Linked DNA regions of Homo sapiens: region 2 is linked to region 1. A link means that fine-mapping ties the variant in region 1 to the expression of a gene that starts in the linked region. Tissue or cell type: whole blood. Region 1 holds a variant in brackets; the other region holds the start of a gene. All regions are shown on one strand. Distances are from middle to middle.

Region 1 (8,000 bases):
TGCCGGGAGGCTGAGGCTATGGGGACTCCGTGCCGGGAGGCTGAGGCTATGGGGACTCCGTGGGGGGAGGCTGAGGCTATGGGGACTCCGTGGGGGGTGGCTGAGGCTATGGGGACTCCGTGGGGGGAGGCTGAGGCTATGGGGACTCCGTGGGGGGTGGCTGAGGCTATGGGGACTCCGTGGGGGGAGGCTGAGGCTATGGGGACTCCGTGCCGGGAGGCTGAGGCTATGGGGACTCCGTGGGGGGAGGCTGAGGCTATGGGGACTCCGTGGGGGGAGGCTGAGGCTATGGGGACTCTGTGCAGGGCCGCTGTGAGGCCCTGAAAGCACTCGTCGGAGGCTCCTGCTTCCTGAGGTCCGTGACTCGGGTCACATGCCGCCTCCAGGAAGCACCCTGGCCCCTGCAGCTCTGGGAACGTCCTCCCGACAGCTCCTGGGAATATCCTGGCACTGAGGTCACTCTGGGCTCCCGGCTGACACTCGTGCCGGAGGCAAAGGTGAGGAAAGGCCGGAGGAATGTGTGGTCTCGGCGCCAGGCCAGGCCTCCCTGTGCAGGAGAGGAGCCAGCAGCTCCCCTTCTCTCAGCTCAGACGGTCTCTCAGGGCTCTCGGGAGGCTCAGAGCAGCTTGGCTGGCAGATTCCAGGGCAGGGGGTGGGCCCGCCTGGTCCCCTCCGTCGCAGCCAGTGGGCGGGAGGCTGGGCTGGTGAGCGTGTGGGCGTGTGTGAGCACACGTGCCCATGCTTGAGACATGGATGCTGGTGTGAGCACCTGACCCCTCACCTCCTTCACTCGGTCTCCTCACGCCCTCTCAGGGACTCCTTCCCCTCCAGGCCTCGGTTACGGGTCACACCTGGCACTGCCAGGCCTGGGGACGTGGTGCGGCCGGTGCGGGGAGGGGCCTTCCAGGCTGCTGTGGGGCCCCCGGCCTCGCCCCACCCCGCCCCGCCCCGTGCTGGGCCATTGCCTCAAATGCAGCGGCTCTGTTGGCCGTGGGACTGGAATTCTTTCCCAAGGGCCCAGATGTGCAGAGGGGAGGCCGGTGCGGGGGAGCAGGGCTCCGGGACGTGCACTTGGGTCTAGCTTTGCCCCTGACGTGCTGGGGCCGCCCCTAGGCCCAGCTCAGTGTGTCCCTCCTGTGCCCAGTGAGGAGGGCGTGCCCCTCGCTGCCACAGGTCCTGGCTGACCACGTGCTGCCCAAGGGCCAATCGCGAGTGCGCAGGTGGGGGACGTGGGGAGCCAGCTGAGGGGGATATGTGGAGGTGTCAGGATGACCCTGGGTTTTTGGTTTGGGCCACTGGGTGGGAGGAGGAGGAGGGGACCCAGAATTGAGAGATGGGGCCTGGGGGGCTGCTCAGAGGGTGGGCTGGGAGGTGCCTGTCTGTGTCTGGCCTGGCCTCCAGACCCTGCCTGGCTGGACCTGCTGTTCGTGCCTGTTTCCGATTTTATCCTCCAAACCAGACGCCCAGCCTGGTGCAAATGCAGGAGTGGAGTTTCCAGGGGGATGTGGACTCCTTCCCTCCACCCCCACCTCGGTCCCTGTCTCCTTCCCTCCGCCCCCACCTCGGTCCCTGTCTCCTTCCCTCCGCCCCCACCTCGGTCCCTGTCTCCTTCCCTCCGCCCCCACCTCGGTCCCTGTCTCCTTCCCTCCGCCCCCACCTCGGTCCCTGTCTCCTTCCCTCCGCCCCCACCTCGGTCCCTGTCTCCTTCCCTCCGCCCCCACCTCGGTCCCTGTCTCCTTCCCTCCGCCCCCACCTCGGTCCCTGTCTCCTTCCCTCCGCCCCCACCTCGGTCCCTGTCTCCTTCCCTCCGCCCCCACCTCGGTCCCTGTCTCCTTCCCTCCGCCCCCACCTCGGTCCCTGTCTCCTTCCCTCTGCTCCCATCTCGGTCCCTGTCTCCTTCCCCACAGGAGGAGTCTGGGGGCTCCCGCGTCACAGGGGCGTGGCCCAGGGCATCAGGTGGGGCGGTGGGTACTGGGCTCAGAGTGGCCTTGGGCTGTCCAGTCCCTCCCTTTCTCCCCAGGACCAGTGACCCTCCCAGCCCCAGGACACTTCTTGGGCCAGGGCCCAGGGCAGAGCCAATGCTCCCCCAGATACTCCCTGGCTGCAAACCTCAGGCTGGGGGTTTTTGGGGACAGGGATGCAGGTGTCTAAGGACACGACCCTCCAGGCAGTGGACGTTTCTGCCTGGGTGGAGGGCACGGTTACGAGAGCAGGGCCCGCGCTCTGGCATCCTGGTGCCCGGGCCCTCTGCCCTCAAGGCCTGTCCTGCCCCAGCTCAGCCCTCTCTGGCCAGGCCCATCACTGTCAGCAAACACCCCCACACTGCTGCCCCCCCAGATGGCCATGGCAGCCCTCCCGGGGCCCGTGTCTGCAGCCCCCACGCAGCCCGGCCGGCCGATGGAAACGCACACCCACACTCTGTCCCACCTCACTCCGAGCTGGGGGTTCGGGGACCACAGGTCCCACCTGCACAGGTTGCATCTGGGGAATGGGCCTGTGGCAGAAAATGTGCGGCGCGGGGCGGGGGGTCCCAACCAGGCAGCCCCAACCTGGACTCTCCTCCACCCCCGTCCCACCTCCTTGCCCCCAGCACACGGTGGCGGAGTGCGTGGGGCCAGCCTGGCGGGGGCTTTGCTCCCCGACCTGCACTTAGAGAACAGAGCATCCTACGGGAGAGAGCAGCTCGGAACGCAGCTTGAGTAATGCCGACTTTATATCAGCACACCCAGTGCCCCCACGTTCCCGCTGGCCCAGGTCCCGGAGACCATGATGGCACCCACAGTGGACTTCGCAAAGGAGCGTGGGGACCCCGAAGGCCAGGCCACCCCTCAGAGGGGGGTCCCATGCTAAAGCAGACGGTGCCGGTGCCGCAGGGCGTCTGAGACCCACGGTGGAGCCCGGGCCTGGCGTGCGGGAGGCGGCCACGACGGCGCCTTTCTCCCAGGAACTCCGGGAGGGACCCCAGGACTCAGCGCCAGGGCAGCCTTGGCAGGTGCAGTGAGGCAGTGACTTGTGGGGGTTAGATGTGGGCCTGCCCCACGTGGGCAGGGATCAGCCAGGCATGGGGGTCCAGCGGATCCGAGCGGGGCCACAGAGCTCTGGAGGACTTTTCTGCACAATGAATTTCTGCTTAAAAACAGAGATCAAGAGGAAGCTCTATCCTGCAGCTCCGGAAATGGGTGGCTGCGTGCTTGGGGT[C/T]TCCGCCACGCGGGAGGACAGCCCAGAGGCACCCTGGTCTCAGGCAGCTGGTTCCTAGGCTGTGTCCTCCCCACTGGCCGGGCACCGGCTGGAACGGCACGAGGACCAGCCTCACTGTTCTCAGAGGGGTCTCGGGCCACTGGGTGTGGTGGTGCTGGAGGAGTCCTGCCCGCTGTGGGCTCTGGAGGGCACGGCAGCAGAGCCCCTGGCTTTTCTAGGCAGAGCGGCACCTGCCCCATAGATCGTGCCAGCTTTGGCTGCAGGCGCTGGGGCCTCACCGTGTTTCCTGGGGGGGCCCGGACCCCCCAAGGCCTCGATCTGAAGCTCTGAGGTCTCATGGATGCCTGCTCCTGGTCCGATAAACGAGATGGCTGTGGTGGGGAGGAGCCTCAGGCGGCCCGGGACCCTTTGGCGTCCGTCGCTGGGAGGCGGAGGGACTCAGAGCCGAGGCTGTGCCCAGGACTGTCCCGGGCGCCGGGCGATGCCAACACTTTGTGCTGGTTCCCGCCAAGGGGTCGGCCTCCGGGTCCCTGCCGCCAAGTGCGTGGCGTGGTCTCGGCCTCCAGGTCAGACATTGCTGATACGGGCCTCCCCCGGGAAGGCAGCGGGATCCGTGGCCCTGTCCAGGGGCCGCTCCCGCCTGACGTAGCGCGGCTTCCGTACTGAAACGGGTCAGAGACAGGCGAGGTCAGAGTGGGACCTGGACAGCAGGGACAGTGCAGGCCTCAGCCCTCACCGGAGGCTCTCGGGAGTGGGCATATGGCACAGGCGCCCGGGGCTGTTTACTCTGACCAGGTGGGAACCCAGATGCCCCCTGCCCCTAAGGCGCCCTCAGAGCTCCAGCTCGGGAAAGGGACGGCTTCCTCCTGCCCGGCTGTGTCCTCTCATTTACACCCTGGGCCCCGGGGCCTGGACAAGGGCCAGGCGATCCCCGAAGACAGAGATGTGGGTCCCAGAGTATCATGCACCTCAGGGGGCGACAAGCAGGCCGTAGTCCCAAGACCTCGAATGTGACCTTATTTAGAAGAAGGGGCTTTGCAGGGGGTTACGTCAGGGTCTCAGGTGTGATCGCCCAGGGTTCCCCGGGCAGGCCCTGAAACAACGGCCAGGGCCCACCTGAGAGAGAGGCAGAGAGAGAAGACGCAGAGGTGGGGGAGACGCCGTGGGACCAGGGGACAGAGACGGGCAACGCAGCCACAGATGCCTGAGCCGGCAGGGGCTGGGAAGGCAGACAGCGTCCTCCCCGGAGCCTCGGGAAGCGTGTGGCCTTGTTTGCCCCTTGGTTTTGGACTTCTGAACTCTAGGATAGTCAGATTAAAGGTCTGCTGTTGAAGCTGGCAGCCCCGGGGCACTCGGGCACCGTGGGGTCTGCTGGGCACTTGCAGACAGGGCTGCTTTAGGGACGGGGCACGTCCAGCCTTGATGGAGAACGGTCTGTCCCCTAAAGGCACGGTCACCTGCCCCCATGACAGACTTCTGCACAGGGGGACGGAGGCCGGGTGAGCCCTGCTCATGGCCTTGGAGCTGTGTGGCTGTGCGCCGGTCACTCAGCCTGTGTCTGTGGCCCCGCACATAAAATGGGTCCTAACCGGGCTGACTCTTGGGTCCGCCTGACCCAGCACCACTGAAGCGATGGCTGCTCAGGAGGGCCTGGCGGAGGCCGGCTGCGTCTGTCCTCGGGTGGAGCTGGACTTCAAGGAGGAGCAGGTATTGGGGGTCTGCCCTGTCGTGGTGGGTCCTCCTTTCCTGCAGACCCCACGTCTCGGGAACAGGAAAGAGCATGGAAGTCACGGGGATTAAAGGGGGGCGGGCAGGGGGCGCCGGCCAAATCCAGCTGAGATCCAGAGCAGGGGGCACCAGCCAAATCCGGCCCTGGCCCTGCCTTGTGGGTGGGTCTCCTGGGGACCCGGGCAGGGGTGGCCGAGATCCAGAGCCAGGCAAACCCGTTTGGGGACAAACCCACAGAGCACCCTGGGACTGGCCCAGAGATGGGAAACCCCACAGGGGGATGCGACAGCTGCTGTTACCTGAGGACTGTGGCGGGGGGATCATTGCAGCCTTGAAAAGGAGAGAAAGGCAGAGTGAGGACTCGGGATGGCCTGGCACAGGCACACGCGGCCAGGGACGCTCAGCCCGGATGATGTGGGTTACTTACGGCTTCGCCAGGCTGCAGGGCCGGAGCTGTGGGGGAGAAAGCGGAGAGTCACCCTGGAGCCCAGGAGCTGCCTCAACCTCAGCCCAGTGCAGCGTCCGGGACAGCAGAGCGAGGAGCTGCCTCAGCCTCAGCCCAGTGCGGCGTCCTCGGAGCAGCAGAGGCCCCGGGGCTGCAGGGTCTCCCCCAACCTCTCCCTGCGGTGCATCAGCCTGGCCCTCGGTCCTGCCACATTCCTCCGGGGCACTCACAGGTGCGGGGGCCTCCCTAGCACCCCAGGTGAGTCCCCGCTCCCTGGACCCACCTTCCCGCCTCAGCAGAGGGGACAAGCCCCCCTCATGAGAAGCGTCTCCCCAGGCTCCAGGGTCCCAGGGGAAGGGCTGCCCTCCCACCCTCCCGGGAGGAGCCTCAGGCACGAGGTGGCTTTGAGCCCCACGGCCGTGGGCTTCTGCCTCCATGGTGCCCCCGCGATGGGGGTGCCGTGGCATCGTGGCCAACCTGGCTTCTCGTCCCGTGGCCACCAGGGCTGACCAAGCCCTGAGCCCTGCTCTGCTCCAAGGGTGCCCATAGGCAGAGATGCTGAGCAGGCCGGGTCTCTCGGTGCCTGGCTGTGCAGGAGACCCTGGCAGCGGGCTCCCGACTGGAGGCTGGGCCCTGAGACCCCGAGAGAGGTTGAGGGGGATGGACAGGGGTCTCACAGCAGCCAGGTGGGGCTGCCCAGAGACCTGGGAGGAGGCCCCAGCTCGGCTATCACAGTCTGGCCAAGTGCTCACCTTGGGGTCCGAACTGCTGGCTGGACCATCTGCCTGGCAGGGACCCTGCGGGGGCCGGCCCTGGACAACGAGGGCAGGCACCACGGACCCTGCTCAGAACCCGCCCCCGCCTGAAGGCACCACAGTCACAAGGCCGTCTCTCCAGTGGGAAGGGGTCAGTGCCCAGGCCCGGGGTGACCGTGTGTACGGCGTGGCGTAGGCTGGGGTGTGGGCCCTGCACCAGCCTGGCCAGCCCTGACCCCAGGAGAGGGGAGGGGGGACCATGGCTGCTGGAGGAGCCCAGGCAAGTCCAACTGCCGAGAGCCACCCAGCCCCGCTCCACTCGCCCCTCGTGATGCCCTGAGGGCCCCGGGGAGACGCCTCTGCCGGAAGAGGGCTCCAGCAGAGGTTCTGGGCCCCGAGGAAGGCCCCTTGGTGCTTCGACCCTTCAAATCCACACACGGCTGTTTCCGGGAAGTGACGGGCCTTCTCACACCGGGACCCAAAAGCCACAGGACAGGCCCTGCTCCCTCCCGGCCTCTGCCAGCCTGCTCTGGCCTGGGACACTCCAGTCTCAGGCCCATCTCCACGGCTGGATGCCGCCTGCCCTGTGCCCTCCCGTGGGGCAGGTGCTGGTCCGGGAGATACCTTTGTTTCTTCTGTAGCAGGCCCTGGGGAGTTTACTGGAGCGCTTGAGGTAGAAGAACCCAGCTACGGAGAGGATGAGGCCGGAGCTAATGAAGAACGTGCCCAGGAAGAGGGAGGCGGCCACGCGCGGAGCCCCTGCAAACAGACACCGCTGAGCAGACGGGCAGGACGGTGGCCCTGGCTCCTCGCCTGGCCCCCGGTGCCCCCTGCACATGGCAGATGCGCTGCTCTCTGAACATGCCTGAGCCTCACGGGACCGGCTGTGGGTGCCGAGGGCTCTGCACATGGGCCTGGGTCATCCCTGCAGGCTCAGCCATGCCTGGGCATCTGGCCGCGGGGTCTGGGAAAGTTACCACCTGCCCCGGCCTCAGCTTCTCTCAGGAGCTCGGATGTTGGGAGCGTTACAGGGGCTGACCCTGGCCGGGCTCTGCGGAAACACCTCTCCGATTCCAGTTGCCCCTGAAAGCCAGGGGGTTCTCAGCCTTGTTCCTTCCTCCGGGCTCAGCACAGGCCCTGGGGCCCCCACACAGGGCAGAGCCTCAAGCTGGCAGCAGGTGCTCCTGCACCCCACTCACCTCCACCTGCCTGGGCCAGGACAGGCCAGGGCTGCTGGCCTGGGGCTCGGGACAGTTGGCAATGGCTGCTGGGTGTGCTCTGAGATGCTGGGGAGGAGACTCCCCAACCCTGAGACACAGGCGTGTTTGCCAGGCTTGGGGGCCTCGCTCCTTCCTGCCCCAGCACAGAGCCACAGGAGGCCAGGAGCCCATCCAGGCCAACCCCACCCTAAAACACTGCCACTCAGGTCAGCAATGGACCCAGGCCAGCTCAGGGCCGTGAGTGTGAACCTGAGAGCGTGCAGTGTGGCCGTGAGCGTGAACCTGAGAGTGTGTGGTGTCAGCGTGAGCCGTGAGTGTGAGCCTTAAGTGTGAACCTAAGAGCGTGCGGTGTGGCCGTGAGCCATGAGTGTGAACCTGAGAGCGTGTGGCTGTGAGCTGTGTGACCCTGAGAGAGTGCGGTGTGGCCATCAGGGCCTCCCCTAACTACGGCCCTTTAGAGATGTGGCAGAGCCCCCCATGACGCCCCACATCCCCCACCCACACCAGCTGACCCCAAGCTGCAGGGGCTGCCACGCTCCCCTCTGGCTGTTTTGCAGAACCCTGAGCCTGCTGTGGCTGCGTCAAGGGTGAGGGTCTGCACTGGCTCCGACGGCCCCCAGCCCCCAGGACACCGGCAGAGGTGGCTGTGGCCTG
Region 2 (8,000 bases), 32 kb after region 1:
CAGGGCAGGTGTGGAGGCTCAGGCCTGCAATCCCATCATTTTGGGAGGCCAAGGTGGGAGGATCGCTTGAGCCCAGGAGTTCAAAACCAGCCCGGACAACAGAGTGAGATCTCATCTCTACCAAAAAAAAAAAAAAAAAAAAATAGCTGGGCTTGGTGACGTATACTTGTGGTCCCAGCTATTTGGGAGGCTGAAGTGAAAGAATCTCTTGAGCCTGGGAGGTCAAGGCTACAGTGAGCCATGATCGCACCACTGCACTCTACCTGGGCGACAGAGCCAGACCCCGTCTCAACAACAACAACAAAGAACTGGTTTCAAGAAAAAAATGATGCCTCAGGTCACTGTGATTTTAAATAAGTAACATCTTGCAAAACAACCCTGTAAAAGCAACCACCGGCTGGGGCAGTGGGTAGACCACACCCACGCTCACCGTAACTCCAGCCGCCCAGGCAGCAGTAACTGAAAAGGGGAGGCGGGAGGGTCCACTGGCGGGTTTCTCACGCTGCTGAACCTCGGTAAACACAGCCCCGAGGGCTGGCTGGAGCTTCCACTGCATCCGTGTAGCTAATGCTGGTCATCTTCGTAGCAAGCAAAGGAAGCCAACGTGAAACGTAGCTTTAAGGGCCCAATAAGAACTGTCTGGGGCCTCTCTACCTAAAGATCCCTCTCGTGCTTTGATAGAAAACAAATACCGCAAACCCCTTGATGGGGTGTAAAGGAGACATCCCCCTTTGTTGACATGCATGGTAGTCGCTGCCCACCTACCCGTGGGCTCAGCACACCGGAGTCGGGCGGTTGCCGTAGGTGGCTCAGCAGACGTGAGCAGGGCAGGATCGGGCCCATCCCCCCACCGGGAATGTCAGGCCACCATCAGGTGATGGTCAGGTGGCTGTTAACTGTCTAAAAGAACTGGTTGCACCCAGCGCCAGGGAAAGACAGGCTCCCAATAGCTAGAAAACACATGAAATCCGGTGATGGGCAGCTTCCCGATACGATCTCAGGAACTGGGCGAGTTGGCTCAAGCGTGTGCACTGAGAGGCAAAATGGCGGCGTGTAACCGTTCTATGACCTTCTAGGGACGTTTGACAGGTAACGGAAGAACGCCTCAGGTGAGCATGGGCACTACTCCAGTGAACACACGGCGCACGGTCCCTCCCTCCAGTGAACACAACGCACACGCTCCCTCCCTCCAGTGAACACACAGCGCATGCTCCCTCCTTCCAGTGAACACACGGCACATGCTACCTCCCTCCAGTGAACACACGGCACATGCTCCCTCCCTCCAGTGAACACAACGCGCACGCTCCCTCCCTCCAGTGAACACACAGCGCATGCTCCCTCCCCCCAGTGAATACACGGGGCATGCTCCCTCCCTCCAGTGAACACACCGGGCATGCTCCCTCCCTCCAGGGAACACATGGCGCATGCTCCCGCCCAAGTACTAGCAAGATGCTGCATGGGTGGACAGCCCACCCTGAAGAAGGATCAGGGGAGAAGGGGTGCAAGACCCCAGAAGCCTGCCAGGCTATAAAACCCCAAGTCAAAAGGTGAAACCGCACACCTGATCTCTCACATCGCCCGTCTGGCCCTCCTCCAAGGGTACTTCCTTTCCTTCCTGCTCTAAAGCTTCTTCAACAACTTTCACTCCTGCTCTAAAACTTGCCTTAGTCGGTGGGGTGCGGTGGCTCACGCCTGTGATCCCAGCACTTTGGGAGGCTGAGGTGGGTGGATCATCTGAGGTTGGGAGTTCGAGACCAGCCTGACCAAAATGCAGAAACCCCTTCTCTACTAAAATACAAAAAATTAGCCGGTTGTGGTGGCAGGCACCTGTAGTCCCAGCTACTCGGGAGGCTGAGGCAGGAGAATGACATGAACCCGGGAGGCAGAGCTTGCAGTGAGCCGAGATTGTGCCACTGCACTCCAGCCTGGGCGACAGAGACAGACTCCATCTCAAAAAAAAAAAAAAAACTTGCCTCAGTCTCTCCTTCAGCCTCATGTCCTTCCATCAAATTCTTTCTTCTGAGGCAGCGAGAATCGAGGCCGCTGCTGACATACTTTGGTGCTGAAACTCAGATACATTCTGCCAGTAATAGAGCTCTGAAGGCTCACCTGAGCTCCACACTCCACCTCGGCACACGCAACCCTCAGCCAGAGTGGTGAGAAGAGGTGGCTCTTTCTTTTCTTTGTGAAACAGGCTGGAGTGCATCGTTGCGATCTCGGCTCACTGCAGTCTCCACCTCCGGGGCTGAAGCGATCCTCCTGCCTCAGTCCCTCGAGTAGCTGGGACTGTTAGTGGCAGAATATGTCCCACTTCTGACACCAAAGCATGTTAGCAGCAGTGAACCTCAATTTTTCCCTCCTCAGAAGAGTTTGATGGACGGGTAGGAGGCAGAAGAGACCTTAGAGCAGGAGCAACAGTTTATGAAGAAGCTTTAGAGCAGGAATGAAAGGAAGTAAAGCGCCCTTGGAAGAAGGCCAGGCAGGAGACCTGAGAGATCAAGTGCGCAGTTTGACCTTTGACTTAGGGTCTTCCACGCTGGAGGCTTCCGGGGTGTTACGTCTCCCGATTCTTCCCTCGGGGTGGGCCGTCCACCCGCACAGCGGCTGCGGGCACTTGGGAGGGAGCATGCACAGAGTTTACTGGAGTTGTGCGCACGCTCCCTCGAGGCCTTTTTTTTTTTTTTTTTTTTTGAGATGGAGTCTCGCTCTGTCACCCAGGCTGCAGTGCAGTGGCGCAATCTCGGCTCACTGCAACCTCCGCCTCCCGAGTTCAAGCGATTCTCCTGCCTCAGCCTCCTGAGTAGCTGGGACCACAGGCGCCCGCCACCATGCCCGGCTAATTTTTGTATTTTTATCAGAGACGGGGTTTCACCATATTCGCCAGGCTGATCTCAAACTCCTGGCCTTCTGATCCGCCCCCCTCCCCCCACGGCCTTGCAAAGTGCTGGGATTACAGGTGTGAGCCACCGCGCACAGCCAGGGCCGCCTTCTCTTACCAGCCAAATGTCCCTGGTAGAGGGGGGCCCCTCTTCTGCCCTGCTCATGTCTGACTAGCTACCTACTGTAACGGGCCACAGGTGCTTGCCCCCATGCCTGGATAATATTTTTTATTTTTTATAGAGACGAGGTCTCCCTATGTTGCCCAGACTGGTCTCAAGCGATCTCCCACCCCAGCACCCACAGCGCTAGCTGTTCTTTAAATGAGCTACCCAGTAAGTCAAAGCTCAGGTGGAGAGCAGCCGCAAGGCAGGGAGCAGCTGGGAGGTATCTCAGGGGTTCCCGGGATGCTGCCTGTGCACCCCAGGGCTGAGGTGACTGCGTGTGGAAACACCTGCCTGACTGGCTTTTAGGAGGAGTACTGGGGGCGGGATGTGTGTCAGGAAAACAACGTTTCTGTATAATTCATAAACATGTATGTTAAAAACAACGTGGCCATGACGGATCCTGGCTGAATGCAAACGGGGAACATAAACCTGAGTAATCAGGCGCATCACTGAACATCCCAGGCGGCCGCCCCTACCCTGGGGCTCAAAACCGGCTCCCTCTGCGAGGGTTTCCCAGGTTAAGCCATCAGGAAACAGGAAGACGCCTAAGAACGATACACTGGACTTTGGGGACTCGGAGGGAAGGGTGGGAGGGGGACAAGGATAAAAAGCTACAAATAGGGTGCAGTGCGTACTGCTCGGGTGATGGGAGCACCAAAATCTCACAAATCACCACTAAAGAGCTTACCCATGTAACCAAGTAACCAAACACCACCTGTACCCCAGTAACTTACGGAAAAATAAAAGAGGAAGACGCAGCTCTGCCTTCTCTGCACACCCTGGTAATACTAAGAAAAATGAAAACCAAAAAAAGGAGGCCAAGTTTGACATCCTGAAATTTAACAGGACGAGGCGGCTAAGAATTCAGCCACAAAATAGTTCCCGGGGAAGAAGCCGCGTTTGCTTTGAAACGCGGTAAGAAATGCCCCCGAACACCTGGGCTTAAATTACACCCAAACTCAATCATCGACTCGCTGCCACCGGAACACGCGCTCCCGAAAAACTGCACCCCGACTAGCCCTCGGCTACTCCAGGTGACAAACGGACAAAAACAAATCCTAAAGCCTCGCGGGAAAAAGACCTGAATCGTGGCCGACTTCTAGGACACCGGGGACCGCGCCGGTGCCCCCACTCCCGGCTGCCGGGAAGGCGAGGCGAACGCGCCCCCTTTCTTCCCCCGGGCGCCCGTCCCATCCCCTCCCCAGGGACCCCCTCCCTGCCCCGAGAACCCCCTCCCCTCCCCAGGTGCCCCCTCTCCCCCAGAGACCCCCTCCCCTCCCCAGGGACCCCCTTCCCTGCCCCGGGAACCCTTCCCCTCCCCAGGGACCCCCCTCCCTCCCCAGGGACCCCCTCCCCTCCCCAGGGACCCCCTTCCCTGCCCCGGGAACCTTTCCCCTCCCCAGGGACCCCCCCTCCCCGCTCCGGGAACCCCCTCCCCTCCTTAGGGACCCCCTCCCCACCCCTCCCCGGGGTCCCCCTGCCCTCCTCAGACGCCCCTTCCCCTCCCCAGGCGTCCCGCTCAGCCCGGGCGCCTTTCCCCCATAGGACCGCGGCCAGGCTCGTTGGGAGGCGGCGACGAGGACGCGGGCCCAGGCGCTGGCGGCTCCTCCGCGCGCCGCACAATGGGGGACGCGCAGGGAACGTCCCTCGGGCCGGGCCAGGGCCGCCGACCTTTGTCTGCCTCTCGCACTCCCTGCGCCGACCCGGCCGCCCAGACGGACCCCAGCGCCCCAACCCGCTACCCTCACGCCTGCCCCCAGCCCCTCACTCACCCCGGCGCCCTCCGGGTTTCTCTTTCGTACACCCCGCCCTCAGGCGGTGGCGCCGCGCCCCCTGGGACTTGTAGTCTTTCTTCCGCCCCGGCCCCGGCGCCAGGCCCCGCAGCTCCCAAAGAAAACTACAACTCCCGGCGGCCCGCGCGAGAGCCGCCCTCGCCTGGTGGTACCATCGCGCGCGGCCGTGGGTGGGGCGCCGGGGCGGGGCGCGAAGCGCCCTGGGAAATGTAGTCCTAGAAGAACCAGCGCATGTCTCGGGTCCCTGACACGGAGGGACTACATTCCCCCGGATTCCTCGCGCGCCGGCTGCTTGGCGTTGCCGGGAGACGGGGCGGGGCGTCGTCGGGGTCTCCCGGGCGACCGCACAAGCGTCGGCGTCCTTAGCGTTCCGCCGGTTTAGGCGGAGGCGGAGGCGGAGCGTTTGGGGGCGGCCGGGGCGGCTTCGGCTTCATCGGAGAAGGCGGCGCGGCTGCACCAGGTTTGGCCGCGGGCGCGCGGGGCCAGCGCCCTCCAGACCCACGGAGCGCCCCGAGCGCCTCGCGAGCCGCCGCCAAATGCGCCCCAGGTCCGCGGCCGGCGCCAGTGCTGGGACCTCGGCGGCCGGTGTCGGAGCGCGGCGGGAGAGACCCTGCCTTGGGTGCGGGACTGGGACGGCTCGGACCCAGAGGGCTCCCGGGGCTTCGCCTCTCGGACGGGTCAGGGCTCTGCGGTCTCAGGACGCTCCCCCGTGAGTCTCGGCGGCCCCGGGGTCTGGGCGGCGTCGCTGCCCCACAGGCCGGGCGCGTGGGTTTTTCCGGGGCTCTGCCTCTGAGCCACCCTCGGAGAAAAGACAGCTCTGTGCGTCCCGCGGCGCCCGCAGCTTTCGGCAAACATGTTTAAAGGAGCTCCCCGAAGGAACTGGGGACGTCCGTCCGCTCATCAAAGGCTTCAATCCTGTCGGTGTCCCCGGGCCCTCTCCTAGCTGGGCCAGCGCGCAGGGTGGGGGGGCGCTGCAGGTGTCGCGGCCCCCCCCAACCTCCGCAGACCCTTCCAACCCCTCAGACCCCCCAAAACCCCCAGATCCCCCAACCCCCCATATACCCCCAACCCCTCAGACCCCCCAACCCCCCAGACCCCCCAACCTCCCAGGCCCCCAGACCCCCCAGCTCCCTTGCTCCCGGGAGCTCCCAGGCCCGTCCTGCATGCGCCTTGGGGTTGTTCCTCCTTGATGGACGCCGCCTCCGGGTTCCATCCCAAGTTTAAATGCCAGAGATTTCAATGGAAATAAAGCCCCCATCTTAACAGCGTGAGGATGTTTTGTAAACAGTATTGGGGACAGCTGGGGAAGTCACATTTGTGTCTTCTCTTTAGAGGGACAGTGTTCGCCTGAGGGTCCATCCCAGGGTTCCCTCAGGGCCTCTGGAGGAGTTGATGCCACCAGTGTCTGGCCGTGGGACACCTGGGCGTGGGCGCCCAGCACCAGGGGTTCGCTGACAGCTGCAGGGTTTCCGGCCATGCGCCCGCGGACGTGCAGCTTCTGTGTCGGTCCCATTAAGAGGAACCTGGCCTGGGCGACGTTTGAGGACCACGGGGAGGACACAGTCGCGGTCCCCTTCTCGGAGTCCAGTCTGTGCCACAGGCTCTTGCCGTCTGCGGCAACTCATTGTGGAGCTGAGCCAGTGTTTCCACTTCCTTTTTGTTTTTTTGTGTTTGAGAGGATTTCACGCTGTCACCCAGGCTGGATGCAGTGGCATGATCGTGGCTCACTGCAGCCTGGACCTCCTAGGCTCAAGCGATCCTCCACCTCAGCCTCCAGAGTAGCTGGGACCACGGGTGTGTGCCACCATGCCTTGACACATATTTCTTTATTTTTTTGTAGAGACGGGGGTCTGTTTTGCCCAGGCTGGTCTCAAACTCCTGGGCTCAAGCAGTCCTCCCGCCTGGCCCTCCCAAAGTGCTGAGACTACAGGCGTGAGCCACCATGCCTGGCGTCCACTTTCTTGACTATTTCCTGAAGACCAGCGTTTCCCGGGTGGTTTCACAGCTGCGGAAGCTGCCTGTGTCAGTGTCAAGTCCCTACCCCTCGGCTTGGCCTGGGGCTGTGGCCCTGGGTGACCGTGTCCTTATGCTGGAGCTTGGTCCACAAGTGTCCCCGCCCCTTGTTCCGTCACTCATGGTGGTCTGCACCTCTCTACACGTTGGCCCCTGTCAGAGGGAAGAAGGCAAAGTCCTGGAGCTGCGGGAAGCCGTGCAGTGCATGTGTGTGTGCCTCGGGCCCGGGCTGCAGGCCCCAACAGGGCCCACCCAGCACCTGCTGAACTGTGCTCTGAGACCAGCACCCACCTGATCTCTGGGAGCAGAGCCCCTGCCGGCGTGGGCCAACCTGACAGCAGCTGCCTGGGCACTGGGCACTCCCTCGTCTGTCAGGCGGGCAGTGGATAGCTCGTCCTCTCCCTGGGGAAGGGAGACGAGGCCATGCGAGATGTCCCTGGAGGCTCCCTCCTGAGTAACCGCACGGGGTGCACATTCCCGAGAACACGAAAGGGTGCAGGATTCCACTAGGCCAGGTGGAAACATAAGGACACCGTAGGGTCGCATCAAGTTGAAGGACAATCTCTAGACTAAAACAGAAACGACATTTACTCCCCTAAGGGCCACACGGGCTGAATCCCATCCTCAGGTTATAGCAGGGATGCTAGGTCTGAAAGCCACAGGGGAGCATCGTAAGTCGCAGGTGCCCACAGATCACACCAGGGACCCCACCTCTGCCAACCGGGCTGTTTGTGTCCCCGAAAGGGAGCACTTTCCTCCCCAGAGACTTCAGGTGCAGTATGGGAAGGTTGGGGAACTAAAAAGCTGTGCACTAATATTTTTTGTATTAAAATAGAACCATCTTATGTTTGTAATGCATGGGGTTTTGTAGGGGCGGGATGTTTTGTTGAGATGAGGACTCGCTCTGTCGCCCAGGCAGGAGTGCGGTGGTGCCATCGTAGCTCACTGCAGCCTCGACCGCCCGGGCTCAAGGATCCTCCTGCCTTGGCCTCCCACAGCACCTGGGGCCACAGGTGTGAGCTGCCGTGCCCAGCCCGGCATTCATAATGCTCAAGAGAACTTGTCCTGAGAGAGGGTCGGCTTTGCCACTGAATCATCTTTCAAATGAGGAAATTATTTAGGCTCTGTAGTGTAAGTGGAATCTTACTGC

The links. PIP is the estimated chance that this variant, and not a neighbour inherited with it, causes the effect.
Region 2: C1orf159 starts here. The variant in region 1 is fine-mapped to the expression of C1orf159 in whole blood (TOPMed, PIP above 0.99).

The regions. Positions count from the first base shown.
Region 1 is chr1:1,079,128-1,087,127 of GRCh38, forward strand. It overlaps C1orf159 (chromosome 1 open reading frame 159), which reads right to left. Exons shown (of 10, transcript NM_017891.5): 7 at 6,751-6,885; 8 at 5,354-5,379; 9 at 5,226-5,256; 10 at 2,696-3,860. The coding sequence ends at 3,766. Among named protein-coding and RNA genes, the nearest start is that of RNF223, 8.8 kb to the left of the region's middle. RefSeq lists silencers at 925-1,004, 1,065-1,164, 2,794-2,973 and enhancers at 1,372-2,074, 2,075-2,776. The variant C/T (reference allele first, on the strand shown) is at 3,199.
Region 2 is chr1:1,111,244-1,119,243 of GRCh38, forward strand. C1orf159 (chromosome 1 open reading frame 159) reads right to left here and starts at 4,846. Exons shown (of 10, transcript NM_017891.5): 1 at 4,817-4,846. RefSeq lists enhancers at 546-1,047, 1,266-1,560 and silencers at 4,537-5,136, 5,307-5,426, 5,467-5,516.